4 linked regions of the Homo sapiens genome follow. The protein of the gene in region 4 binds, or shares a complex with, the protein of the main gene of each other region. Each region holds a gene or a part of one and is shown on either strand. Other genes may lie near its edges.

The links.
Region 1: NUP188 (region 4) and NUP153 share a complex: the UniProt entries of both Homo sapiens proteins name them as parts of the nuclear pore complex.
Region 2: NUP188 (region 4) and NUP93 share a complex: the UniProt entries of both Homo sapiens proteins name them as parts of the nuclear pore complex.
Region 3: NUP188 (region 4) and NUP85 share a complex: the UniProt entries of both Homo sapiens proteins name them as parts of the nuclear pore complex.

Annotation. Positions count from the first base shown.
Region 1 is NC_000006.12:17,626,926-17,633,963, reverse strand, and holds part of NUP153 (nuclear pore complex protein Nup153), read left to right. Parts: intron 1-1,119; coding exon 1,120-1,314; intron 1,315-4,424; coding exon 4,425-5,309; intron 5,310-7,038. UniProt on the Homo sapiens protein: Component of the nuclear pore complex (NPC), a complex required for the trafficking across the nuclear envelope. Functions as a scaffolding element in the nuclear phase of the NPC essential for normal nucleocytoplasmic transport of proteins and mRNAs.
Region 2 is NC_000016.10:56,845,129-56,850,786, reverse strand, and holds the end of NUP93 (nuclear pore complex protein Nup93), read right to left. Parts: 3' UTR 501-5,658; downstream 1-500. UniProt on the Homo sapiens protein: Plays a role in the nuclear pore complex (NPC) assembly and/or maintenance. May anchor nucleoporins, but not NUP153 and TPR, to the NPC. During renal development, regulates podocyte migration and proliferation through SMAD4 signaling.
Region 3 is NC_000017.11:75,215,646-75,222,683, forward strand, and holds part of NUP85 (nuclear pore complex protein Nup85), read left to right. Parts: intron 1-108; coding exon 109-178; intron 179-2,539; coding exon 2,540-2,661; intron 2,662-7,038. UniProt on the Homo sapiens protein: Essential component of the nuclear pore complex (NPC) that seems to be required for NPC assembly and maintenance. As part of the NPC Nup107-160 subcomplex plays a role in RNA export and in tethering NUP96/Nup98 and NUP153 to the nucleus.
Region 4 is NC_000009.12:128,992,661-128,999,698, forward strand, and holds part of NUP188 (nucleoporin NUP188), read left to right. Parts: intron 1-536; coding exon 537-743; intron 744-864; coding exon 865-1,034; exon of another isoform or gene 1,035-1,374; intron 1,375-1,712; coding exon 1,713-1,782; intron 1,783-2,195; coding exon 2,196-2,263; intron 2,264-2,658; coding exon 2,659-2,854; intron 2,855-4,203; exon of another isoform or gene 4,204-5,490; coding exon 5,491-5,568; exon of another isoform or gene 5,569-5,877; coding exon 5,878-5,963; exon of another isoform or gene 5,964-6,028; intron 6,029-6,511; coding exon 6,512-6,657; intron 6,658-6,963; coding exon 6,964-7,038. UniProt on the Homo sapiens protein: Component of the nuclear pore complex (NPC), a complex required for the trafficking across the nuclear envelope. Required for proper protein transport into the nucleus.

The sequences.
Region 1 (7,038 bases), on a different chromosome or scaffold from region 4:
AAGTGTAGATTGCAGGTGTAGATTAGGAAACTGTTTTTTGGGGATTTAAAAACCACTGGAGTAAATGAGAGTTTGTGAGGACAGTGGGCCAAGATGGAACCCCAGGGAGCAATTTGGTTGGCAAGATGGAAGAGAACATACCTATAAAATGTAGAGATCAGTTAGGTAACTATGGAAGAGGTGGCGACAGTTGTAGGCCATCTAGAGAAGTAGGAATACCAGAATGAATGGCTTCACTGTCAGCACTATATTTTGGGCCTTACCAAGCCGTTCTTCCTGTGCCACCTCTCCCACAAACATGCTAGTTTTGCTTAAGATTTGTCACCTCTGTGTATCCTTTTCCTGCCTCTTAGTCATTTCTTCCTTCTTTGCACACTTGTTTTAGGTTGTCACTTGGTGATGGTGCCACTGTGCTTTTATTTTCCCCCTTTAAGACCATGAGCATCTTACAAGTTAAGCAACATTTTATTCATCTTTAATGTCCCCAGAACCCAAGTATATTATGATGCTTAATAAATGTCTGTTAAATGGCTAGCATGTAACAAATGTCAGGAATGTAGTAGGTGTCAAGTTAGATTGTGAAGTGGATGTGAAGTAGATGCACTTCTGTGCAAAAGCTATCATTCAGAGGCAGAGATCTATGCTTTCAAATCTTGAAATTCATATGGTCTGTGGCTGTGTATTTTATATGTTAGGATATTGCCTACAATTTACATCTTATGTCTTAGAATGCTTGCTGCTTTGAAGAAATTTGAAAAAGATTCTTAAGAAAAATTTAGTCTTTGAGCCCCTAATTTGCGAGCATGATTTTTTTTCTTAAACCACAGCAGTTCAAACATGTGGTTAAGGGGGAGCTCACCAGTGAGCAAGGTGATTATGAGCTGCTCATTTATAAGGTTAAAAGAAATCATTTATAAGGTTAAAAGAGAGGTCTATTCTTTTTTTTAAACAATGTAAATATGAACAGTTGTCTATTTCTGGCACATTCTGTGTTTTAATAGGAAATATTATTAGAAACTGAACACTTAAACTTAGCAGTGCCATTAAGATACTGACATACTGTAAATTAAAATTTTCATGAAATCTCCCCCCACTCCCCGTTTTTTTTTTTTTTTTTAGGAAGTTCAGTACCTGCTTCAAGTAGCAGCACTGTACCTGTCTCTCTGCCTTCTGGAGGCTCTCTAGGATTGGAAAAGTTCAAGAAACCCGAGGGAAGCTGGGACTGTGAATTGTGCCTAGTGCAGAATAAGGCAGACTCTACCAAATGTTTGGCATGTGAAAGTGCAAAGCCAGGCACAAAATCTGGGTTTAAAGGTAAGGCCAAAAAAATAAAAATAAAGGTGATGGTAAAGCGCCTTTTTGTAAGGCCATTTAAAAATGAAGTATTTGAGAACAGCTTCAGTGTTCACTCATTCTCTCTTGAAAATTAATATAAAATGAGATTATCCTGAGATGTTTTAGTTATATCTGTTTCTGAATATTGTAAGGTCATATTAGTTGCTTGTCAACAGTGAGGTATCTTTTCTCCAGGTGGGAAAAAAAATTTCTTGTGTCATTGAGCCTCAGAGAGTTTTTGTTTTTTGTTTTTAACTGCTAGCCCCCTAGGTGAACTGTTCTTTGTTTTTTTGTTTGTTTGTTTTTTTGTTTGTTTGTTTGTTTGTTTTTGAGACAGTTTTGTTCTTTTGCCCAGGCTGGAGTACGGGGGCGCGATCTCTGCTCACTGCAATCTCCGCCTCCCAGGTTCAAGCAATTCCCTGCCTCAGCCTCCCAAGTAGCTGGGATTACAGGTGTGAGCCACCGCGCCCAGATGAACTTACTGACTTTTATTTGACTGGGAATACACCTCTAAATTAAAAGCGATACAGGCTGTGGCTTTGGTTTCCCAAAGTAGGTCCCAGGAAAAGAACTCTTAATATTTTACTATATAAGTACAAAGGAAGACTCCCTCAAAGTAATTAATCCTAAACTAACTGGAGGCCAGATTTTTGTGTTTTTTTTGAGATGGTGTCTTGCTCTGTCGCCCAGGCCGGAGTGCAGTGGCCGATCTCTGCTCACTGCAAGCTCCGCCTCCTGGGTTCATGCCATTCTCCTGCTTCAGCCTCCCGAGTAGCTGGGACTACAGGAACCTGCCACCACGCCTAGCTAATTTTTTGTGTTTTTAGTAGAGACGGGGGTTTCACCATGTTAGCCAGGATGGTCTCAATCTCCTGACTTCGTGATCCACCCGCCTCGGCCTCCCAAAGTGCTGGGATTACAGGCGTGAGCCAACACGCCTGGTCTGGAGGCCAGATTTTTCAAGTCTTCTGTAAAAGAGTAAGCCCGCAAGGAGAAAATGTGTGAGGATTAATGTCTTGAAACAACTCAGACAGATATTTCATCTTCTTACTTATAAGTTGTAGCTAAATAAAGTGTACTCAGTGGACAGAGTGTAGACCCCTAGAACGGTGAGAGGATGGGATGGGGGGTAGATGATGAGAAATTAATTAATGGGCACAATGTACATTATTTGGGTGATGAATATACTAAAAGCCCAAACTTCACTGCCAGGCAACATATCCATGTAACAAAATTGCACTGGTAATCCTTAAATTTATACAAATTAAACAAAAATAATAGCAAGCTTTATCTACTTTGTAATTAGCTTTCAAACTCTTGATTGCAAACCAAAAGTCAGGAATAAACCTTTTATATTGTGAGCCATCACCTGCACAGCGTATATGTCTATATGATTGAAATCTGTTTTGCAAAATAATACTTGCCTCTGGTAGGTGTAAGGTTCCCTGGTATTTTCTGTTTTATTTTATTTTAAAAGAGAAGTGCTGGTTGCAGCCTGCTAAATTAATTGATGATTAATGGTATACAACTAGCAGTTTGAAAAACACTGCATTTAAGTGTTTTAGAAGTTTGTGCTTTCTGGTTCATTTTATCTCTTTCTGTAGCTGTTAATTCATGCTCCCCTTTTTATACTGTTCTCTACCTGTAGTGTGGTAATCACCATACTTTTAAGTATCTTAGTACTTCTTAATGATCCTTGTTTTGAGCCAGTAGGTCAAGTACTTCATTTCTGATTTCCTTAGCTGCAGAAAAGCATTATGAAACCAAGACTTTGATCTTGTCAGTATAATGCTTGCTCTCTTCTCTTTTCTCTTCTCTCCTCTCTCTTCTCTCCTGTCTTCTCTCTTCTCTCCTCTCCCCTCTCCCCTCTCCCCTCCCTTCTCCCCTCCCCTCTCCCCTCTTGTCTCCCCTCCCCTCTCGTCTCCCGTCTCCTCTGCTCTCCTCTGTTTTCTTTTCTTTATTTATTTTGAAGTGGAGTCTCACTGTTGACCGGGCTGGAGTGCTGTGGCGCAATCTTGGCTCACTGCAACTTCTACCTCCCGGGCTCAAGCAATTCTCCTGCCTCAGCCTCTCAAGCAGCTGAGACTACAGGCACAGACCACCATGCCTGGCTGATTTTTTTTGTATTTTTAGTAGAGATGGGGTTTCGCCATGTTGGCCAGGCTGGTCTTGAACTCCTGACCTCGGGTGATCTGCCCGCCTTGGCCTCCCAAAGTGCTGGGATTCCAAGCGTGAGCTACCACGCCCAGTCTGATGTTTAACTTTATAAACATTGCTTCAACTCTGTAATTCTTCTGTTTTTCTGTTGCCTTCCTTTTTTAAATGCTTGAGTGAATAACACATTTATTCACAAGATTTAAAAATCAAGAAATTGTGACAAGGTTCAATCTCTTCTCTCCATTGTCTCTTTTTCCACCTTCCCTCCCACTTCCAAATGTAACTGTGGTTAGTTTCTTGTAAATCTTTCAAAGTTTCTTTATGCCCATCCAAGGCAAACATACATACCCCTATATATTCTTACTTCCTTTTACCTTGTTAGAAAAGTCTGTATACCGCACTCCCTTTCTGCCCCTTTGATTTTATCAGGGATTATCTTGGACACATCTTTGTTCTTCCTTCTTCGTTTATAGCTGCCTGGATTGCATATGGCATTTTGCATGTCTATGAGTTTATCTTTAAAACAAACTCCAGCTATAGAATTGCAAGGTCAAAGGGTATATGCATTTGTAATTTTCGGTAACTATTGACAGATTGCTCTCTATGAGTTTTGTGTTCATTTATACACCCACCTGCAATGTGTAGCCTGTTACTTCCAGTCTCATCACTAGTACAAACTTTATCAAACTTTATCGCAGCCAGTCTGATAAATGAAAAGTGGCTTGTCAGGATAGTTGTGAGGATTGAGATATCATTCTCATACCGACTAAATATAGGTCACCTTGGATTATGTTTACAGCTGCTGGTAATACTCTTCAAAGTAGGCCCTTTCAAAGTTACTCCTATGTTTCTTTGGCTTTCACAGTGTTTACATTTTGTTTGAGAGGATCAGTACATTGAGTGTCTATGTGGTGTCTTTTATATTTTTGTAGGCTTTGACACATCTTCCTCATCTTCGAACTCAGCAGCCTCCTCATCCTTCAAATTTGGTGTCTCATCATCCTCTTCTGGGCCTTCTCAGACTTTAACAAGCACTGGAAATTTTAAATTTGGAGATCAGGGAGGATTCAAAATAGGTGTGTCATCCGATTCTGGGTCTATAAACCCCATGAGTGAAGGCTTTAAATTTTCTAAACCAATAGGAGATTTTAAATTTGGAGTTTCATCTGAATCTAAGCCCGAAGAAGTTAAAAAAGATAGTAAGAATGATAATTTTAAGTTTGGACTTTCTTCTGGTTTAAGCAACCCAGTTTCTTTAACTCCATTTCAATTTGGGGTATCTAATCTTGGACAGGAAGAAAAGAAAGAGGAACTGCCCAAATCTTCCTCTGCAGGTTTTAGCTTTGGTACAGGTGTTATTAACTCCACCCCTGCTCCTGCTAACACCATAGTGACCTCTGAGAACAAGAGCAGCTTCAACCTTGGAACCATAGAAACCAAGAGTGCTTCAGTGGCTCCTTTCACATGTAAGACATCAGAAGCTAAAAAAGAAGAAATGCCTGCCACCAAAGGAGGATTCTCTTTTGGCAACGTGGAGCCTGCCTCTCTGCCATCTGCCTCAGTGTTTGTTTTGGGAAGGACAGAAGAGAAACAGCAAGAGCCTGTCACTTCTACTTCCCTAGTTTTTGGGAAGAAAGCTGACAATGAAGAGCCAAAGTGTCAACCAGTGTTTTCCTTTGGGAATTCAGAGCAAACCAAAGATGAGAATTCTTCAAAGTCCACATTTAGTTTTAGTATGACAAAACCATCTGAGAAGGAATCTGAACAGCCAGCAAAAGCCACTTTTGCCTTTGGAGCTCAAACTAGTACTACAGCTGGTAAGTATTAACTTTTTATTATTATTATTATTATTTTTTTTTTTACAAGTTGTCGTTTTACAAGTTGCCTTGACAGATGCAGCAAGTCAATTAATGGTTTACACTGAACATAGTTGAGAAATACAGAACTCTTTGGGAAGGAACCTAGGATTTTCAGTTTGAACTGCTCTTTAAAACCCTCATGATTCTGGTGAAGTCATCTGTGGATCTAATTTTGAGAAATACAGCAGTAATGCAAAGCTCAATATAGTGCATATTTATGTGTGTCTTTCTCTTCTGTTTGGGCTTTTATAATCAGAATTGGTATCTACTACCTGGAAAATAAGGATTCTTAGCTTATGAAGTATTTTCTACCATAATCTATGGGAAGGCCTTTATTTACAAATAGTTACAGATAACCAGTCCTCATCAAACATTAAGAAACATAGACAACAAATATAATTAATCCTGAGAAAACAAGAGATTTTGAAAGCTGAAGTCCTGGGGAAAAAAATGACATAGCACCTTAAAGGTTAAAAGCATGATTGTTGGTGGATCCTATTAAAGTCATTCTGTGAGCTGAATAGCAGGAAGAACTTCATAGCTGATAATCAGATTAGTGAACTAGAATTTCCCCAAACTTAGTGCACCAGTACAAAGAGTGATCCAAGTTAGATCCACAAGTTCCTTTGGGATAGGAGTGGCCTAGAAGATAAGAAGTTTTGGGGAAATATCAAAGAAGTGACAGAAGAAAATTTTCTAGATCTAAAGAAAGACATTGGTCTTAAAAATGGAAATTACCTATTGGCAAAGATCACTGAAATTTAGGACACCAAAGCTAAAACCCCAAATGCTTTCAGAGAGAAAAGCTATTTGCCACAAATAGGCAGGTATCAGATTAGCATCATCTTCTAATTTGTAACATCACATGCTAAAAACAACAGTGCCCTTAAAGTGAAAATGTTCTTGAACCTAGAATTCTGTTACTAGCCAAATGTGTTTAAATATAAAGACAATCCGGGTGCCGTAGCTCACACCTATAATCCCAACTAGTCGGGAGGCTGAAGCACAAGAATCTCTTGAACCTGGGAGGCGGAGGTGGCAGTGAGCAGAGATTGGCCCAGTGCACTCCAGCTTGGGCAACAGAACAAGGCTCTGTCTCAAGAAAACCCAACAACAACAAAAAAACACCAACACAAAGGCAAAATACAGATGTTTTTAGATGTGCAAAAAATGCAAAAGTTGAATATCCATGAATACTTTTGAATAATAAATTGGAAACACTCAAAATTAACCTTTAAAAAGTATGGAATTCAACAAATAGCTATGAGCAGTTTTTTGTCTGTTATATATTTACTTAGAAATATAAAGACAAAATCAAAACTAAAATTACATATTATTTGGAAAGCAACAAAAACATGATAGGGTCTAATCAGATTTGATGATGAAAACACCAGGCTATGGTAGACACTCTTAACCATTCTTCCATTAGCCAGGTTGAAAGTAAGCCAACATGTTCCATTTTCTGTAAGTCATACTAATGCCCATAGTGTACTGTGACCAGCCCTGGATAGTGTGCGGTATTGGAACTGAGAGATTATTGGAATAGTTTAGAAAAAAATCTTCAATAAGGTGGCTGGATTCAGAATCACCATATAAAAATCAAAAGTTTTTCTTCAAATCAGCATGTCTCATTTGTTTTTCCTAACATTTCTAACTTGTATTTTATAAAAGCAGCAGAACTTGTAAC
Region 2 (5,658 bases), on a different chromosome or scaffold from region 4:
CCAAATTCCGGCTCCCCTTCCCCAAGGCCAATACGTGGCTCTCAACCCCCATTTAAAATGCTTTCCACTGAAGGTCTAAAATAAAGGGTTACAGATCTTAGCTGTTCCTAGCCCCCAGAATGCATGCCACATGCTGGGTTTATCACCAGAATGCTTCTGACTTACTGTCCCACCACAGTCAGAATCTGACCTTTCCGGCCAAGAATTCTGAAGTTCAGGGGGAGAAAGCACAAATTCAGAGCTGGGATGGGAGTCCTGTACTTACAGAGACCTCTGGGGACTTCGCAGACCCAGGGACTGGATAGGCCTTAGGAGCCTTCTTTGCAGGGAGTGGAGAAGGGGCCTGGCTCATTAAGCCCCGAGGCCAGGTAGAGGCACTTCTGTCACCTTCTGAGGAGCCCCCAGGCTGTGCCTCAGCTAAAGATATTCCCAGGAAAGGCCTGAGAGAGGCTTCTGCTCCACTGAAGGACTGAACAAAGGGGGCACATGGCACTCTGGGAGAATATTCCAGAAATTTACTGGCTACAGACAGGGATAGTGGTGAAGGAACCATCCTAAACAGAGTAAATGCAGAAGTTACTGTACAGAAAGGAACATGCAGAACACATCCACCAACGCTCTCCCACCCTCTCCCTTCTCCCACAAGCACCACACAGAGTGACTCGAGAAAAGCAAAAAAGAAAAAAAGGAAAATAATCAGTCAACTGAAAAACGCAAAGAATTCTCCCCCACTGAGTTTCTAACACAAGTTACTGATCAAGTGAGAAAAGGCTGTACTTTGGCTCTTTCCTTTCTTTCTAAAATACACAGTATTTGAAATTCCTGGTTGAAAAACACAGTAGATGACAGCCACTGAGGTCAACTGGGGCCCACATTATCCCGCTCAGCTGCCTGCCTAGCTCTTCAAAACTGCGTATCTCAGTCATTTCCGATGCCCACAAAAGCACAAACAATGCACAAAATCAGGGTAATCCAATTCCACTAGAGAGCTCCCGGCAGCCCGTGGCAGGCCTGAAGGTCTCTGGGCAGCTAGTACCAGCAGAGGCAAGCCCAGGTAGGGCAGCCACATAGAACTGGGACATACTTACACTAGGAACTTCTTCACTGTTTATCCAAAATGCAAACTTAATTGAGTGTCCTATATTTTTATTTGCTAAGTCTGACCCGGATGAAGGGGCCTTACCTGCAGGCCATAAAGCCCCTGGGTGCCACCTGAAAGCCTGCCTAGGCCAGGTCTGCTGAGGCCACCAAAGCATATGTCCTGATGCTGAAGTCCCCTCTGGGATCACTGACTCCCCACTTCCTGTTCAAACAGAAGCCAGTGTCTGGGGCAAACTTTTTTGCCCTCCCCATCCCCAAGAAATAGAAGCTCAAGGGCAAAGGCAGCCAGGTGTACAGATTGTGCTAGCGCAGAGCTGGGTTTCTGCCAGCACCCCGTCCCTTTTTCTTTTTAAAGATCCGGCCTTCATTATTCACAGTACATCAAATTTCCACCCCCTTCTCAATGTTTCCCTGCTGCTGTGCAGCTCTGCAAGTTTCTGTCTTTGAAGGAACAGCCCTGAGTCTCATTTGATCCTGGGAGACATTATTCTCCTCCACCTTCTTTCAGACTGAATGCCTATTAAGGGCCCCCACGGTGAATCACGGAGTCTGAATCTAGGCACGTGGAGCTGATCCAGAGGATGTGGGGAGGAGCCTGGCACAGGAGGACAAAGCAAAGCATCTGCTCATTCAAATATCTGCTGAGCAATCTACTGTGGGCCAGATACCCCAGAGAGGGCACACAGGAGAAGCATATTTCAAAAACCAAGGTTAGGACAGGAAAATATCCTCTTTCCCTGGGTTAGCAACTTAGAACCACGAGTACTTCACTTAGGTGATCCTGGACAAAAAAACGAAAAAAACGAGCCTACTTTTAAAGAATTATGCACAACTCTGGGAACAAATCAGTGCTTAATTTACCTCAGATATTCCAGCTACCTAGCACGGCCCAGCACACAAAGAGGTTTTGAAATCATCTGCTGCAATGGAATCTTGGCTGATAAATACACGTGGCCTATCTAGCCAGTCACAAGTTATGTGCGTAACAAGGCAAAAAAGCAGCACAGACCACTTGAAATCTCTTTTCAGAACACTTTAGTAATTTTTAACTTTTTTCCTTTTCGGTTGGAAACAAGTGGCAGAAAGATTTATTTCCTTCCTGTCCCTGCCCTGTGAGGGATACCAATATATTATGGAACTGTCAGAAGATGGTGGAAGATGGGAAGACTTGTGGATTCAGCGTAGGATAAAGAATGGGGGATATTTTCTTCCACAGTTTAGACAACTCCTGTTTAATGAGATGCTGACTTCTTCCTGGTATTTCTGAGATGCAGGAACAAAAGCTCAATTCTGATATAAAACACACATTTCCATCAAGAATTTTATATGTAACACTTTCTCCCAATTTGCTGACACAGGGCTCAATTCCTTTCCCAGCTGACTGAGGCTAAGGGAGAGTTCGCAGTCAGTGTGGGGACTGCCAAGACTTTGTCAGGCCTGGGTCAACCCGCCAGCCCAGGGGTTCATTTTCTGACTCAGCATTCAGCATGCTCAAGTCACTTCCTGAGTGGCATGCTGGAAATTTGGCAAGTGATGTGAACCACCTAATGAACTAGACAAAGGTTCTGGTGCCTAGTAGAGAAAAAGGATAGTAGAGATCCAGTCTAAAGCAGGAAGGCGTTGGCAGAGCTGCATATAACTGCAAATTTAGTATTAAGGGTTCTGGCTAGGTGCAGGCAAGGGTAAAAATTCAAAGAGAGAAAAATCACCCTCAGGTTTTTTTTGGTCAGCAAATGCTGGACACTGCGGAAAAGTCTGTAGTTCTTTGCTTTAAAGCTGCCTGTTCTAGGATTTAAATGATGCATCAAGAGTTAACAGTGGCTGCCAAATTGTCCTTAAGAGGCTCTAATTAGACTGTAAGTTCGCGGAGGACAGGAGCTGGGTCTGCATCCTGGCCCCAGTGTAAAATGGGCACTTCCTGCTCTTTGATGAGCCCGCCCAGCTCGTGAGTGAAAAAGGAAGGCATCTGCCGTGGCAGAGCTCACCAGTTTCGCTTCAGTTTTCCCTCTGAAGTTGGGGAGTCAAAGAGTTTTTTGTTGCTGTTGTTGTTGAGCCAAAAGAAGAGAATCTGTGAAATTAAATCTCCAGGCCTCTGAAAAGGATCCAGATCAAGTCAGTACTTTCCTTTGAGTGTTTCAGTGAGTTTATTATGAGCCATTCTGAGACAGGAACAAACCCTGACAGTCTCAAAGTGCCCCCAATTTCATTAGAAAGATCGAAATCTCACATCTGGAAGACAAGACGCCTAGTGCCACTTTCTCTTAGTTTCTCTGGGTAAATAGTGAAATCCTGGCCCAACATCTAAGGAAAGAGTTAGTTCTCTGAAAAAGTGGGCTGAAGATGAGTTTTTAAGATAATAACCTGTCACAGGGTCAGGACTTCTGGGCATAAGCTGTAATGATGGGTACATGACAACCTGATGTTGTGGCCTTGCAAATTCAGCCTGTTTCTCATCTCTGCACAATTCCAGAGGCCTGTGCTCAATCGCACAATCAGCTTGTAGGACAAGAACTGGGATTTGCTCCATCCGAGTCCTGGCCCTTCTGGTATGAACCTACTTATCTTCTTTCTCCTACAAATGTCTCTCTCAGCAAGTCCTTAACTGCCAACCAGTGACCACTTTTCTCCCAACTCACAGCTCCCCTAGCAGAGCAGCTCAAGGTCTGGCTGCTTCTCTCCCTTCTCATTTTAGGACCCATCTACAGGTCAAAGAACCTCATCCCCTGGATGCAGGGCTGGTGTGCAGTTCTCTCTGAGACAAGTAGAACTGCAGGATGCAAGGAAAGGCAAATCCACGATTCTCATGGGATAGTGAAGAAGAGGTAAGCCAGGAGCAAACATGTATTTAAACAACTTGAGCCTTCTCATTTGTGGCATTGTTATATTTCTATCTGCAAGTAAAATCTAGTATTAGAAAAACAAAGCACTAAGTTGCACTTTATGAAAAGTCCACAGAGTACTCTTATTTTTATTTTTGAATCAGAGCCTCACTCCATCGCCTAGGCTGGAGTGCAGTGGCATAAGCTCGGCTCACTGCAACCTCCGCCTCTTGGGTTCAAGTGATTCTCCTGCCTCAGCCTCCCGAGTAGCTGGGATTACAGGCGCCTGCCACCATGCCCAGCTGATTTTTGTATTTTTAGTAGAAACGGGGTTTCCCCATGTTGGCCAGACTGGTCTCAAACCCCTTACCTCAAGCGAACTGCCTGCCTTGGCCTCCCAAAGTGCTGGGGTTACAGGCGTGAGCCACTGCACTCGGCCAGAGTACTCTTTATTTTTTTGAGACGGAGTATCGCTCTTTCACCCAGGCTGGAGTGCAGTGGCATGATCTCAGATCACTGCAACCTTCGCCTCCCGGGTTCAAGCAATTCTGTCTCAGCTTCCTGTGTAGCTGGGATTACAGGTGCCTGCCACCATGCCCGGCTAATTTTTGTATTTTTAGTATAGACGGGGTGTCACAATGTTGGCCAGGCTGGTCTTGAACTCCTGATCTCAGGTGATCACCTGCCTTGGCCTCCCAAAGTGCTAGGATTACAGGTGTGAGCCACCCCACCCGGCCAGGAGTACTCTTTTTTAAAAAGCACTATTAAATCATTTGATTAGCTTAAATCAGCACATATAAGCAGGGCACAACTTGCTAAATCAAGGCCTCTGCAGGGCTCATGTTTCAAGACTTTCTAGTAAAGCTCAATTGAAGACAGTCCTCCAGGGTGACAAGATGGGACTAGAGGAGGAAGGCAGAACACAGCTCCACTGACCCTCAGGCCGCATCCTTCCTGGAACATGGAATCCTACCGATAAGCAGCAGTTGGTTCCATTATCTACAGATTATTTCTTCCCAAAAGAAAAGGTAACAATTATTTTAACAACTGGGAGACAGTGGGGATGACCACACCCTGTGACAAGACAGAAACTTCTCCCTACAAGCAAAGGCACCTTTGGGGACCCTTTGGGGATCTTAACATTCTGCTGGGAAAGAGTCTACCTCAGGGAGCCGTCCATCAAACCAGCAGAGCAGACCACTGCCCACTGTCTCAAGGCTCCAGTTGGCCCATTCAGGAACAAACACGACCTAATTTGCTCTCTGGTTTAGTCTAGGGCTTTGGGACTGATGGTGGGGGAAACAGAGCAAATGATGGGTGACAACTACTGCTCAGGGAGCAAACACCCATGGTGCTGATGCCATGTGGTGGTCTGGATTCTGTACATTGCAGACTCAGCACGTGACCCATGAGCCTGCCTGGCCAATTACCTTAATGAGTGGGGAAGGGGGTCGTCTGAGCAGAGGAACTGACCACCAGAGAAGGGAAATAGGGGCTTAAACGTCTTTCTAGGAGGGGTGTGTACAAGGCCGAGCAGTCAACTCACAGTGGAGCAGCTACAGAGGAGTGCAGTGGCAAGGTTTACCCCTTCCTCAAGTGCAAGCTGGGGGCACTTGCAACCTTCCTTCTTAAGGCTTTTTCTAGGTCTATGCTTTTATCTCCACTGGGATTGCAACAGAACGGCAAACTGATGAATCCTGCAATCAGAGCTGATGATTTGGGGGATGGTCTTGGACCA
Region 3 (7,038 bases), on a different chromosome or scaffold from region 4:
GGGTTAAGGAATGACTGTCATATGAGTCAAAGTCTGCTTTATCCCTTGGCTCTGAGAGCAAAGCTCAGGAATCATTTCAGGTGAAACCTGTCCCCATTTCTTCCTTAGGTCTCCATTTTGTCAGCAATGGAGCTCATCTGGAACCTGTGTGAGATTCTTTTTATTGAAGTGGCCCCAGGTAGGCATGGAATATCTCACCATAATCTCATAGGTGTCCCCTTCCATCTTCTGCTCTTTCCTCATCTTTCCTGTGCATGGTGATGAGTGTTTTATTCCTGAGAATGTTCTTTCCATCATTATAACCACGGGAAGTCGTTAGAAAACACCCAAAGAAACCTGACCGTTTTGTCAGGTGCTGCAAAAAGAATCATGCAGAGTGCCTCCAAGAAACCTAAACCCTGACAAGTACTGAGAAATATTAAACTAGTGTGTGAAAGGGGGTGTCAGTGTTAACATCATGGACTGGCCAAGCTTAAGAAAGTTTTATGAATGTGGGGTAGGATTAGGTGGTGAGAGGCAAAGTCACATTGGGAATTCTGTCATGAATCATTGGGACAGGGCAACTCTGTGTGTTAACTCTGCCAATGGGTATGAACTCTGCCAATGGGAATTTTTCTGTTGATCTTTTTTTTTTTTTGAGACAGAGTTTCACTCTTGTTGCCCAGGCTGGAGTGCAATGGCGTGATCTCAGCTCACCGCAACCTCCACCTCCTGGGTTCAAGCGATTCTCCTGCCTCAACCTCCTGAGTAGCTGGGATTACAGACATGCGCTGCCACGCCTGGCTAATTTTGTATTTTTAGTGGAGATGAGGTTTCTCCATGTTGGTCAGGCTGGTCTCGAACTCCCAACCTCAGGTAATCTGCCTGCCTCGGTCTCCCAAAGTGCAGGGATTCCAGGTGTGAGCCACCGTGCCCAGCCTTCTGTTGATCTTGAATTAAACTGTGGTCAGTATAGTGTCATGGCCTGTATGAGCTCTCTGTGGATCTGCTGCAGCTTTTTTGCATTTCTTTTAAGGATTTATGTTTGCTATTTTCCATAAATGAGTAGTAACCTCTGTGTAGCCCTAGCATTTTATTCATACTCTCACTAAAGAAGTGAGGAACTTGAAATTAGAGTTGGTTGTTCAGAGGCCTCCCTTCTCCAGTGGATTTTTGAGGAGGTTACAGTTGGCTCTTTGTATCTGCAGGTTCTACATCATGGATACGGAGTGCTGGCTGTACTCTGCCATTTTATTTCATTTTATTTTTATTGATTGATTGAGACAAGTTCTCACTCTGTCACTTAGGCTGGAGTGTGGTGGTACAATCACAGCTATTGCAGTCTGGACCTCCCAGGCTCAAGCGATCCTCCTGTCTCAGCCTCCTGAGTAGCTGGGACTACAGGCACGTGCCACCATGCTAGGCTAATTTTTTGTGTGTATATGCTGGGGGAGGGGAGACAGGGTCTTGCTCTGTCACCCATGCTGGAGTACAGTGGCGTGATCACAGCTCAGAAGCCTCGACTTCCTGGGCTCAAGCAATCCTCCTGCCCAGCCTCCCAAGTAGCTGGGACCACAGGCCTGCACCACCACGCCCGGCTAATTTTTGTATTTTTTGTGGAGAGGAAATTTCGCTATGTTGCCCGGGCTGTTCTTGAACTCTTGGGCTCAAGCAGTCTGCCCATCTTGGCCTCGCAAAATGCTGGGATTATAGGCGTGAGCCACCATTCCTGGCTCGGCTAATTTTTTATTTTTTTTTGTAGAGATGGGGTCTCCCTATGTTGCCCAGCCTAGTGTCAAACTCCTGGGCTCAAGCGATCTGCCTGCCTCAGCCTCCCAAAGTGCTGGGATTACAGACATGAACTACCATGCCCGGCCATATGTTTTGTTTTGTTTTGTTTTTTGAGACAGAGTCTCACTCCGTCACCCAGGCTGGAGTGCAGTTGTGCGATCTTGGCTCACTGCAACCTCTGCCTCCTGGGTTCAAGCAATTCTGCCTTAGCCACCTGAGTAGCTGGAATTACAGGCATGCGCCACCACGCCCGGCTAATTTTTGTATTTTTAGTAGAGACAGGGTTTCACCATGTTGTCCAGGCTGGTCTTGAACTCCTGAGCTTAGATGATCCACCTGCCTTAGCCTCCGAAAGTGCTGGGATTCCAGGTGTGCACCACCAGCCCCCTGGCCCTATGTTTTTATCATCATTGCATACCTGGCTGCTTGCTATCTAGTCATTGTTGGTTCCTAAACGGCCATTACTTATGTAGCTATTAAGTATTTGTGAAGAATCTGGAGTGTGGGGTAGTGAGGTCTGCATTCCATGTTCACCCCTTTCTGGGGTCAGTTAAAGATGGAGCTGCCTGGCACAGAAGTAATATTTGGTGAAAGTGCATTTGCTTTTTCCTAGCACAGTCTGTCATTCAGGACCATGTGTGTGACTGCTTAAAAGGGATAAACCTATGTAGTCAGCTTGTCTGCCTTAAAGTTCTCTGTTCCTTGGATAAAGGAACTTGCTGCAGATGAAGCTGAGGCTTTTGTGTGTGATGAGAGTCTCTCCTCCCAGCTGGCCCTCTCCTCCTCCATCTCCTTGACTGGGTCCGGCTCCATGTGTGCGAGGTGGACAGTTTGTCGGCAGATGTTCTGGGCAGTGAGAATCCAAGCAAACATGACAGCTTCTGGAACTTGGTAAGACAGGCCGGGCCCCCACCTCCCACCATGTGTCCTACTGTCCCTGGTGCTGCCGGGTGGGTCTGAGGACACCCACTGAGCCTCCAGCAGTAGGCTGGCTTTTGGAGTCTGTTACTATGGAGACTCTTTTGGATCTTTTCTTCCCTGCTCTATGGGAGAGTCTAAAACCGAGGTACCATGTAAGAAAAATAATGCTTTGAAGACTTTTCCAGGGTAAAAGGAAATTTGATTTCTTTGTGGATCTAAGGAAGAGAAGACACAAAAAGGAATACAAAACCGTTTTTTTTTTTTTTTTTTTGAGACAGGGTCTCGGCTGGGTGCGGTGGCTCATGCCTGTAATTCCAGCCAGCACTTTGGGAGGCCAAGTCAGGAATCTCTTGAGCCCAGGAGTTTGAGATTAGCCTGGGCAACAAAGTGAGACCCTCCATCTCAAAACAAATTAATAAATAAAAATATAAAAGAGAAAAGATAGTCCGACTCTGTTCCCCAGGCTGTTGTGCAGTGGCCTGATCTTGCTCACTGCAACCTCCGCCTCCTGTGCGGTCCTACCACCTCAGCCTCTCAAGTAGCTGGGACCACAAGTGCCAACCACCATGCCTGGGTAATGATATAAAACCAATTGACAGGGGCTGGGGTGCATACAGGGTTGGATGTAAATGAGCTTGCACATTACTTTGGATCATCAGTTTCGAAGTCAGCATGTCGTATATGTGTATATGGATGTATTTTCTATGTGTTAGGTATTTCCATTCACCTCTGCTGACTGACCCAATTGGGAGGTGGCAGGGAGGAGATCGCTAGTTGACTGGGCTAATGGAAAGTCAACTAAACTTATAAAGCCTGAAATTGGGAACAGATTGTGAGGACAAAAAAAAAGAAAAGAAAAGAAAACCTGGAATTCGGCCCGGCACGGTGGCTCACAGGAAGTAGTGGGCCAAATGTTTGAGTCTCTGATTGATTCGCTAAGGTTTGTTGTTGTCGTTTAGAGACAGGGTTTCGCTTTGCGGCCTGGGCGGGAGTGCAGTGATGCGATCATGGCACAATGCACCTTTGATTTCCTGGGCTCAAGCAATCCTCCCACCTCAGCCTCCTGAGTGGCTGGGACTACAGGCGCACACCACTACGCCTGGCTAGTTTTATTTTTTGTAGAGGTGAGGTTTCACTGTATTACCCAGGCTGGTCTTGAACTCCTGGGCTCAAGCAATCCTTCCACCTTGGCCTCCCAAAGTGTTGGAACTGCAAGTGTGAGCCACCATTCCTGGTCATTCACTGAGTATTTATTGAGTCCCTACTATTTGCAAGGCACCAAGGAGACACCATGACTAAAACAGGCAAAGATTCCTGCCTTTATGGAGTTTATATCCTGTGTGTGGAGAAAGAACAGCAACACATAGGCTAGTACCATGTATCCTGGCACATAGTGAAATGCTCTGCCAAGGTGCCAAGAAGGGAGGGAGGCTGCAAGTGCTGGAGGGGCATCGAAGAAGGCCTCCCTCATGAGAGATTGGAGGTGAGACCTGAAGGAGGTGAGGAGAGCTAGGCTGAAGAAAGCATTCCAGATAGCAGGGCCTGTAGATGCTGTGTTCTAGAGCCAGGGTGGGGCAGGAGGGGCTGTGCTATGTAGGGGTAGGTGGGAGGGATGAGCTGGGGAGATAAAGACAGAGCGATACCAGGCCAGGTCTGAGACAGCCCCCTGGGCTGTCACTGAGACTTTAGCTTTTTGCAGCCTACATAGCAGGGTGACTAACAACATGGTCTGTGGTGCCACACTGCCTGGGTTAGCATTCCAGCTCTGCCTTTTACTAGCTGTGAGGTGGGTTTTTTTCCTTTTTTGAGACAGAGTCTCTCTCTGTCACCTAGGCTGGAGTGCAGTGGCGCCATCTCAGCTCACTGCGACCTCTGCCTCCGGGGTTCAAGTGATTCTTCTGCCTCAGCCTCCTGAGTAGCTGGGACTACAGGCGCGCGTCACCATGCCCAGCTAATTTTTGTATTTTTAGTAGGGATGGGGTTTTACCATATTGGCCAGGCTGGTCTCAAACTCCTGACCTTGTGATTCACCCACCTTGGCCTCCCAAAGTGCTGGGATTACCAGCATGAGCCACCATGCCTGGCCTTTTTTTTTTTTTTTAAATACAGTTTCACTGTGTTCCCCAGGCTGCAGTGCACAATCACCAGTCACTGTAGCCTTGGCCTCCAGGTCTCCAGTGGTCCTCCTACTTTAGCCTCCCAAGTAGCTGGGACCACAGACATGTGTTACCACCACCAGCTAAAGTTTTTATTTATTTATTTATTTTTTGAGATGGCGTCTTTCTCTGTTGCCCAGGCTGGAGTGCAGTGGCGCTATCTCAGTTCACTGCAACCTCTGCCTCCCTGGTTCAAGCAGTTCTGTCTCAGTCTACCAAGTAGCTGGGATTATAGGTATACGCCATGATGCCCAGCTGGTTTTTGTTTTGTTTTGTTTTGTTTTTTGTATTTTTAGTAGAGATGGGGTTTCATCATGTTGGTCAGGCTGGTCTTGAACTCCTGACCTCAAGTGATTTGCCTGCCTCCCTCCATCCCACCATCCCAATTTTTTTTTTTTTTTTTTTTTTAGCTGGAGTCTCGCTCTATTGCCCAGGCTGGAGTGCAGTGGCACGATCTCGGCTCGCTGCAAGCTCCGCCTCCCGGGTTCATGCCATTCTCCTGCCTCAGCCTCCCGAGTAGCTGGGACCACGGGCGCCTGCCACCACGCCTGGCTAATTTTTTAATTTTGTTTAGTAGAGACGGGATTTCACCATGTTAGCCAGGATGGTCTCGATCTGACCTTGTGATCTGCCTGCCTTGGCCTCCCAAAGTGGTGGGTTTACAGGCGTGAGCCGCCACGCCCGGCTAACCCAATTATTTTTTATTTTTATTTATTTATTTTTTGAGGCAGAGTCTCACTCTGTTGCCCAGGCCAGAGTGCAGTGGGGCGATCTCAGCTGGGATTATAGGCTCTCGCCATCCTGCCTGGCTCATTTTTTTATTTTTAGTAGAGATGGGGTTTTGCTGTTTTGGCCAGGCTGGTCTCGAACTCCTGACCTCAAGTGATCCGCCTGCCTCAGCCTCCCAAAGTGCTGGGATTACAGGCTTGAGCCACCATGCCCAGCCAAATTTTTTTATTTTTTGAACTCCTGGCCTCAAGCAGTCCTGTTGCCTTGGCCTCCCAAAGTATTGGGATTACAGGTGTGAGCCACTGTGCCCGGTCACTAGGTGTGAGATCTTGAGTGAGCTACTTAACGGCCTTAAGGGTCCTCATCTGTCCAGTGGAGATAATAATACCTGTCCCATGGGGCTGTTGTGATCATTAAATTAGTTAAAGGACATAAATGTGGGTGAAGTAGTTGACACGGTTGATGCACAGTAAAAGCTAGTCTTTTACTTCTAAGCCATATGGGGTGAGGGGGCATTGGAGAGCTGAGCAGAGGAAGCCTGAGATCTTACTTAGGTTCCCAAAGGCTGTCCTGGCTGCCATGTTGAGACTACAGCAAGGATGGAAACAGGCCAGTCTGGATTCTGCTGTACTAAGCCAGGTAAAAGATGGTGGTGGTGTAGGCTAGATATGTTTGAAGAGAGTTGATGGGGTTTGCTGATGGATTGATTTGATGTGGGCATGCAAGAAATAGAAGAATGTGGGAGGATAAGGTTGGTGAATTGGAGGCAAACTGGTATTTAATTTTAGACATGTTTCTCTCGTGTGTGTGTGTGTTTTGTTTTGTTTGTTTGTTTGTTTGTTTTGAGACAAAGTCTCTGTTGCCCATGTTGGAGTGCAGTGGTCAGATTACAGCTCACTGCAGCCTTGACCGCCTAAGCTCAGGTGATCCTCCCCTCCTAAGCCTCCCAAGTAGCCAGGACTACAAAGGCGTGCCACCATGTCCAACTAATTTTTGTATTTGTAGTGGAGACGGGGTTTTGCCATGTTGTCCAGGCTGGTCTCAAACTCCTGGGCCCAAGCAATCCACCCTCCTTGGCTTCCCAAAGTGTTGGGATTACAGGCGTGAGGCACCATGCCTGTCCGACATGTTACGTTTTAAGATGCCTATTCAAGATCTAAGTGGAGATGTTGACTAGGCACTTGGATATACAAAGCTGGAATTCAGACAAGGAAGTTTGGGCTAGAGAGGAAAAGTTGGGAGTTATCAGTATGTATATGTTTATATATTTGTGATTTTTTTTTTTTTTTTTTTTTTTTTTTTTGAGATAGAGTTTTGCTCTTGTTGCCCAGGCTGGAGTGCAGTGCCTTGAATACTGAATTAGTGAATATTGAACCATTGCTCCTAGGGGAAATACAGGGTTAGGTTCCTGCAAGCCTCTGGTCATATTTTGTTCAACCAATCAATATATAACCGATCACTT
Region 4 (7,038 bases):
CCTAGAATGGATGCATCCTGATTTATTTGCGCTACTTTCTGTCTTTCACTATTACAAGCAGTGCTGCAGTGAACATTATTATCCCTACCACCCTGTAAACATTTGTTTACAGTTCCAAAGATTTATGTAGGTATAAATGAACATGATATTTTTTATTAGATATTTCCAAATTACCTTCCAAAAAACATTGTAACAGTTTATACTTATAACACCAAGTATTCTATCGTTGCTGCAAGGTCTTCATCATTGTTTAGTCTTTGCCAATCTAATAAGCAAAAAAATGTTTCACTTTTCAGTTTGTATTTATTTAACCATGAGGGAAGTTGAGCATTTCTTTATACTGATTACTGTCTTTCCTGTGAATTTGCGGGCATCTCATGCTTGTTTGTGGTGATGTCCCTTTTAGCCCAGAGCTGTAGTCTGGATGCTTCCCTTTCTGCCAATTTTCTGGGAGCTCTTCAGTGCCCTTCTGTGGGAGCCCATTGAGGTTTTTGTGGAAGCAGAGCTCTAAGCCTGTGTGTTCCGGTCTCCACCAGGTGGCCCCAATGTCAGTGTATGCTTGTCTGGGCAATGATGCGGCTGCCATTCGTGATGCCTTCCTGACCCGATTGCAGAGCAAAATTGAGGACATGCGCATCAAAGTCATGATTCTAGAGTTCCTCACTGTTGCAGTAGAGACCCAGCCAGGCCTCATCGAACTGTTTCTGAACCTGGAAGTTAAGGATGGCAGTGATGGCTCAAAGGTAAGCCTGTAACCTGGGATGACACTGGGAGTTGGCTCACTGGGAGGCAGATGCTGGGCTCTGCAAGTACAGCTGCTGGCAGTGGCTGTGGAACTGAACTCTTACCTGTCCCTTCTTGCAGGAATTCAGCCTTGGGATGTGGAGCTGTCTCCATGCAGTGCTGGAGCTGATTGATTCCCAACAGCAAGATCGATACTGGTGCCCACCCCTGCTGCATCGTGCCGCCATTGCCTTTTTGCATGCTCTGTGGCAGGATCGGAGGGACAGTGCCATGCTGGTCCTCCGAACCAAGTAAGTCTGCCTCTGGGAGTAGTTTCATTGTTCTGGTCTATAAAATGGGAGTAATAATAGCTCTTATCCCAGAGGTTTGTTGTGACAGTTCACTGGGAATAAGAGTGCTTAGTCCTGGTTCAATACCTGGGAGTTTTACACTAATTCTCTTTCTAATGCTGCTGCAAGTATTAAGGATCTTTAAATATTAAGCACCTGGAAGGTTCAGTTGCTTTTGTGTTCCTGCCTTTTGCTAACTAGCTGCATCAAAACTCATTATTCTTGAGAAACAGTAGATTCAGGAGAGAGGCGCTTGCTCAAGTCACTGGATTGAATGAAACATTCCGTTCTATTGGACCTGCTGGCACAAAGGGAAGGAGTGTTAAAAGGCTAAATTTGGGAGTCTGCTGTCTTATTTCCCTCCCTCCTCTTCTGTGGGGCTTTTGGGAATCTACAGTGGAAGGAATCTTGAAGAGTTTTTATTGATCAACTCTATAATGCATAAGTGTGATTCATGAGAGGAAAATGTAATTTTATCTATGGAAACCTTTCATTTATACGGGAACAACTGACTTATCAGACACATATTAGGATTGAGACTGGTAAAATATGAAGTGACCACCAAAGGGAGCTTGAGAGAGGAGAAAATGACTGTGAGAGGGAAAAAGTTATGATTTCAAACATTTATTTCCTTTTTAGACCCAAGTTTTGGGAAAATTTAACCAGTCCGCTGTTTGGAACCCTTTCTCCTCCCTCTGAAACATCAGAGGTAAGCTGTGGCAGAGGGCAGGATGGTGGCTACAAGTCCCTTGGAGGAAAGGCTGTGGGCTGTGAGATGGGGCCGTAGACAATGATACCTCCCCTAATTAAACAACAGAATGTTCCCTTCACTAGAAACGTCTTTCTCAGGGAAGTGCCAGCTTTCTGTCCCTTTGATGTCTTGCTTTGGGAAGGAAAGTGGTTTGCGCTACTGTGTGTTGGTGGCTCTGTGGTCTTCTCCATTCAGTTGGAGACGTTGTGGACCTGACGCCTCTGCTCTTGCAAGTCAGGACATTCACATTCAACAGGGGTTGTGCTAACTTGTTCTGCAAGTGTTGGGCCCCTGCTCTGTTCCCTGTTTGATATACTGGGGGAGATCAGTGATCAGAGATGTGATAATTGCCTGTTCTGCTATCTCCACAGCCCAGCATCCTGGAAACCTGTGCCCTAATCATGAAGATAATTTGCTTGGAGATATACTATGTAGTAAAGTGAGTACTTTCCCCTCTTGAGATTTTAACTGAAGGTTGGGGGAGTGGGAGTTGGTGGCCTACCACTGGGTGCATGGCTGGAAGAGCCAAGGCAGAGGAGAGAACTGGTTTGGAACCATTCATGGAAGGCCAGTGAGCTGTGTTCCTGGCCAATCCACCGATGGCATTTATGATTGTCAGAAAGAGTTATTGTGAAGCAAACTCCATGCAACTGGGATTTTATGGAGGAGGAATCCTGGAAAGGCCTCAGCCTAACCCACACGTTGGAGGTGTCCTGGAGCCGTCTGCCTTTAAGCCCATGCAAGGTCGTTTTCTCTGCCTCAACAAGGGTCTGTACCCATTATATTCCCATCTGCTTTCAAAATCTAACTGGAGGTTTTTTCTTGACACTGTAGGGGTTCATTAGACCAGTCATTAAAGGATACACTGAAGAAATTTTCCATCGAGAAACGCTTTGCCTACTGGTCAGGGTATGTCAAGTCATTGGCAGTTCACGTGGCCGAAACAGAAGGCAGCAGCTGCACCTCCTTGTTAGAGTACCAGATGCTGGTGTCCGCCTGGAGGATGCTTCTCATCATTGCCACCACTCATGTAAGACCCTTTTGGGGAGAGTTTTCACTTTGGTACCTTAGCAATGATGTGTTGACATGAGCCTAGCAGATACAGCTCCTTGTGCGGAAGAATTAATCAGGGTTTATCCCTGAGAGCTAAACTGTAATAGGTTCTATGCTGAGAGATTGGGACTGTGGGGTATTTGAGGGTGTTGGGTCCAGGAGACCATTAAGAGGAATGCAGAGAAGTGATTTGAAATCCTTTCAGAGTTCCTAAAGCCTCCTGTACCTCCCTTAGGCCTTGGCTGGGTCTTAGCTGCTCCCTGGCTGCATCTGCCTCTTGTGCAAAGGCATAACTGTCTTCTCGTGCTGTGTACCTTGTAGATGCTAGGTCAATAAATACTTGTTGACTAGTCAGCAGGGAGCTGTGACAGCTGCAGCAGCACCCTCTCTAAAAAGCAGTTTGTCATTGGTTCTAGAAACTGCATTTCCTGGTCTTAGAAAAAGAACAGAGGCCATTGTCTCTGTACTCTGTCTACTGGGAGTTGGTTTTGAGAGAGAGAGATAACATCTGGAAGAAATGCATTGTTCTTGGCTTTTTTGTGGTTTGACTCCGTCACGCTGTATCATAAGGACTTGGTATTGAAGTGTTCTTTCTTGGGGTATCCAGATTAATTTTTTTTTTTTTTTCTTGAGACGGAGTCTTGCTCCGTCACCCAGGCTGGAATGCAGTGGTGCGATCTTGGCTTACTGCAACCTCCGCCTTCCGGGTTCAAGGAATTCTCCTGTCTCAGCCTCCCAGGTAGCTGGGATTATAGGTGCCTGCCACCACGCCCAGCTAATTTTTGTATTTTTCGTAGAGATGGGGTTTCACCTTGTTGGTCAGGCTGGTCTCGAACTCCTGACCTCAGGTGATCCACCCACCTCGGCCTCCCAAAGTGCTGGGATTACAGGTGTGAGCCACCACGCTTGGCCCAGATTAATCTTTTGACTTCATGAACAACTTCAGCTTGATAGATGCCTCCTTTTTCCAAGCACCTCCTACATCTGTGAAATTTGTTGCCTAGTGCCAGACTGCCCACATGCTTGGAGCTTTGAGCCTAGGAGGGGCAGGTTTGTGGCTACTCTTGCTGTGGCATGGTGGTTTTGGACCCCTAAGGCTCCAAACACACTTAAAGGCTCACCTGTCTTTGAGAATGGTTGATTCCCCAGGGTATAACCTTTATGTCACCTGCCTTTTAGGCCCTAGTTAGGCAGCAGTTCTTGAATTGTAGCTCTGAAAATCCCACCATCCTCTTTCCCCAAAGGAAACCTATCTGGCTCTCTGTCTCACCTGTCTACCTATACAAAAGAAAAGAAAAAAAAAGAGAAAGAAACCTAAGTCCAGGATGTTGGTCACCCATTCATTCTCTTAATGGCATTAGTGGAACGCTTCCAGGCATTGAGATGCAGCAGTGAATAAGGCAGATAAGATCTTTGATCGCATAGAGAGTGCCCTATGATGGAGGAGGTAAATTATAAACAAATTTAGCAATAAAAAATATGGTTTCAGATAGTGATAATTTGCTGTGAAGGAAATAATTAAAGTGCTGTGGTAATGAACACATGAGATAGAAGTAGTCAGGGTGGCCTTCTCTGAGTGGTGATGTCCCAGCTGAGAGCTGAATGTGTGAAGAAGCCTTCCAGGTGGAGCCCGTGGAGGAGAGAAGTCTAGGCAGATGGACTTGCAAGTGCAAAGTTCCAGCAGTGGAAAAGAGCTTGATATGTTCATGAAAGAGGCAAGCAGGGTTGGACTAGAGTGAGCACAGATGGGACTGATACTACATCAGTTGGACCAGATCCTGTGGGGTCTTTGGACCATGTTGAAGAGCTTGGTTTGCGTTTCCCGGGCACTGGGAAGCCTTTCAAGGATTCTAAGCAGAGGGAGGACAGAGTCTCAAAGAGGAGGTGAACCTGGGCTTGATTCTGACCATATCTAAGGGTTGACAGAAGAACAGCAGGGCCTTCAAGCCCTATTTTACTTTATTTTTTAGGGAACAGGATCTCACTATGTTGATCAGGTTGGAGTGCAGTGGTGCAATCATGGCTCACTGCAGCCTCAACCTCCAGGGCTCACGTGATCTTCCCACCTCAGCCTCCCAAGTAACTAGGACTACAGGCATGCACCACCATACCCAGCTAATTAAACATTTTTTGTTGTTGTTGAGATAGGGTCTCATCATGTTGCCCAGACTATAAGCCCTATTTTATTTTATTTATTTATTTAAGACGGAGTCTCTCTCTGTCGCCAGGCTGGAGTGCAGTGGTGCGATCTCGGCTCACTGCAGCCTCCGCTTCCTGGGTTCAAGCAATTCTCCTGCCTCAGCCTCCCGAGTAGCTGGGACTACAGGTGCGCGCCACCATGCCTGGCTAATTTTTGTATTTTTAGTAGAGACAGGGTTCCACCGTGTTGGCCAGGATGGTCTTGATCTCCTGACCTCGTGATCCGCCCACCTCAGCCTCCCAAAGTGTTAGGATTACAGGCATGAGCCACCACGCCCGGCCTATATAAGCCCTATTTTAAATCAGGGAGACTGTTTTACCAATGACTAATTGCCTAGCAGAGGACCCCATGTTTCTTGGCCTCTAAAATCTGGAAAATTTTCCCAGCTGAAACCTTTTTCTGTTCCTTTGCAGGCAGATATAATGCACCTGACTGACTCTGTGGTGCGTCGCCAGCTCTTTCTTGACGTGCTTGATGGAACCAAAGCATTAGTAAGTGTGTCTGGGAGATTTTACATTTCTCCCAGGGAGGTTGTCTTTGAAGTCAAATAGCAGAGGTCATGAGTCTGCCAGCCAGCCGCACAAATAGTCAGGTCACAGGGCTCACGTTGGCCTGGGAGGCCTGAGACTGTAGTGGGTCAGCAGAGCTCTGCTGCTGCCATGCCAACCCTGGCTTCTCCCCCTCCACTCCACTCCTGTGAGCTCACTGCTGGGGAAGAAAGGCAATGAGGCCGGAGGTGCCCTGTGGATGGCATGCGAATCTTTCCACTGACTTCTGACTGGTGTGCTGTCTCCTTTCAGCTCCTAGTTCCAGCCTCAGTGAACTGCCTTCGCCTTGGCTCCATGAAGTGCACTCTGCTGCTTATCCTCCTCCGGCAGTGGAAGAGGTGAGGCTGTGCCAGGAGAGGCAAGCCCGAGGCCAGAGCCTTCTTGTCAGTGCCTGCTTGCCTTCCTGAAAGGGAGAAATAGTGGGTGGAAGCTGGGCTGGTTTTCCATCTTGAGGAATGGGAGTGACATAGCAGATAGGAGGGTGAGGCAGACTGGTGGATATCCTGAGATGGAGCAGGGGCAGTGTGTGGCCTTTTATGAGGTATTTTGTCTCACTCCCCACCCCGTATTCTTTTTTTTTTTTTTTTTTGAGACGGAGTCTCACTCTGTCGCCCAGGCTGGAGTGCAGTGGCGCGATCTCGGCTCACTGCAACCTCCACCTCCCAGGTTCAAGTGATTCTCGTGCCTCAACCTCCCTAGTAGCTGGGATTACGGGTGCGCGCTACCATGCCTAATTTTTGTATTTTTAGTAGAGACAGGGTTTCACCATGTTGGCCAGGCTGGTCTCGAACTCCTGACCTCAGGTGATCCACCCGCCTTGGCCTCCCAAAGTGCTAGGATTACAGGCATGAGCCACCACGCCTGGCCCACCCAGTATTCTTTCTAGAGAGTTAGGTTCTGTGGATGAAATCCTTGGACCCTTGACGGAGATCCTGGAGGGAGTGCTGCAGGCCGACCAGCAACTCATGGAGAAGACCAAGGCCAAGGTGTTCTCAGCATTCATCACAGTGTTGCAAATGAAGGAGATGAAAGGTGAGGGGCAGAGGCAGGGGGAGCAGCAGCTGCAGTCTGCCCACTCCTGCTGACAGCCAGGCAGGGCTTCCTTCAGCTTAGGGCCACACATTTCTTCTGGGACTTTTGAGTTTCCAGTCATGGAATTCTTACCCCAAGAAAGCTATTTTTTTCCCTCATGTGTCTCTCCCTCCTCTCCCACTGGACAGATGCTGTCCCTCCTAGCGCCCTAGTACATCTCCAGCCCCTTCCTAGGAAGGAAACCTTGGTGTACAGTGAGAGTTGGCCTGGTGAGCATGACAGTGTCCCTCCCTGTCTATTCTACAGTAAGTGACATCCCCCAGTACTCCCAGCTGGTGCTGAATGTCTGTGAGACCCTCCAAGAGGAAGTGATTGCACTCT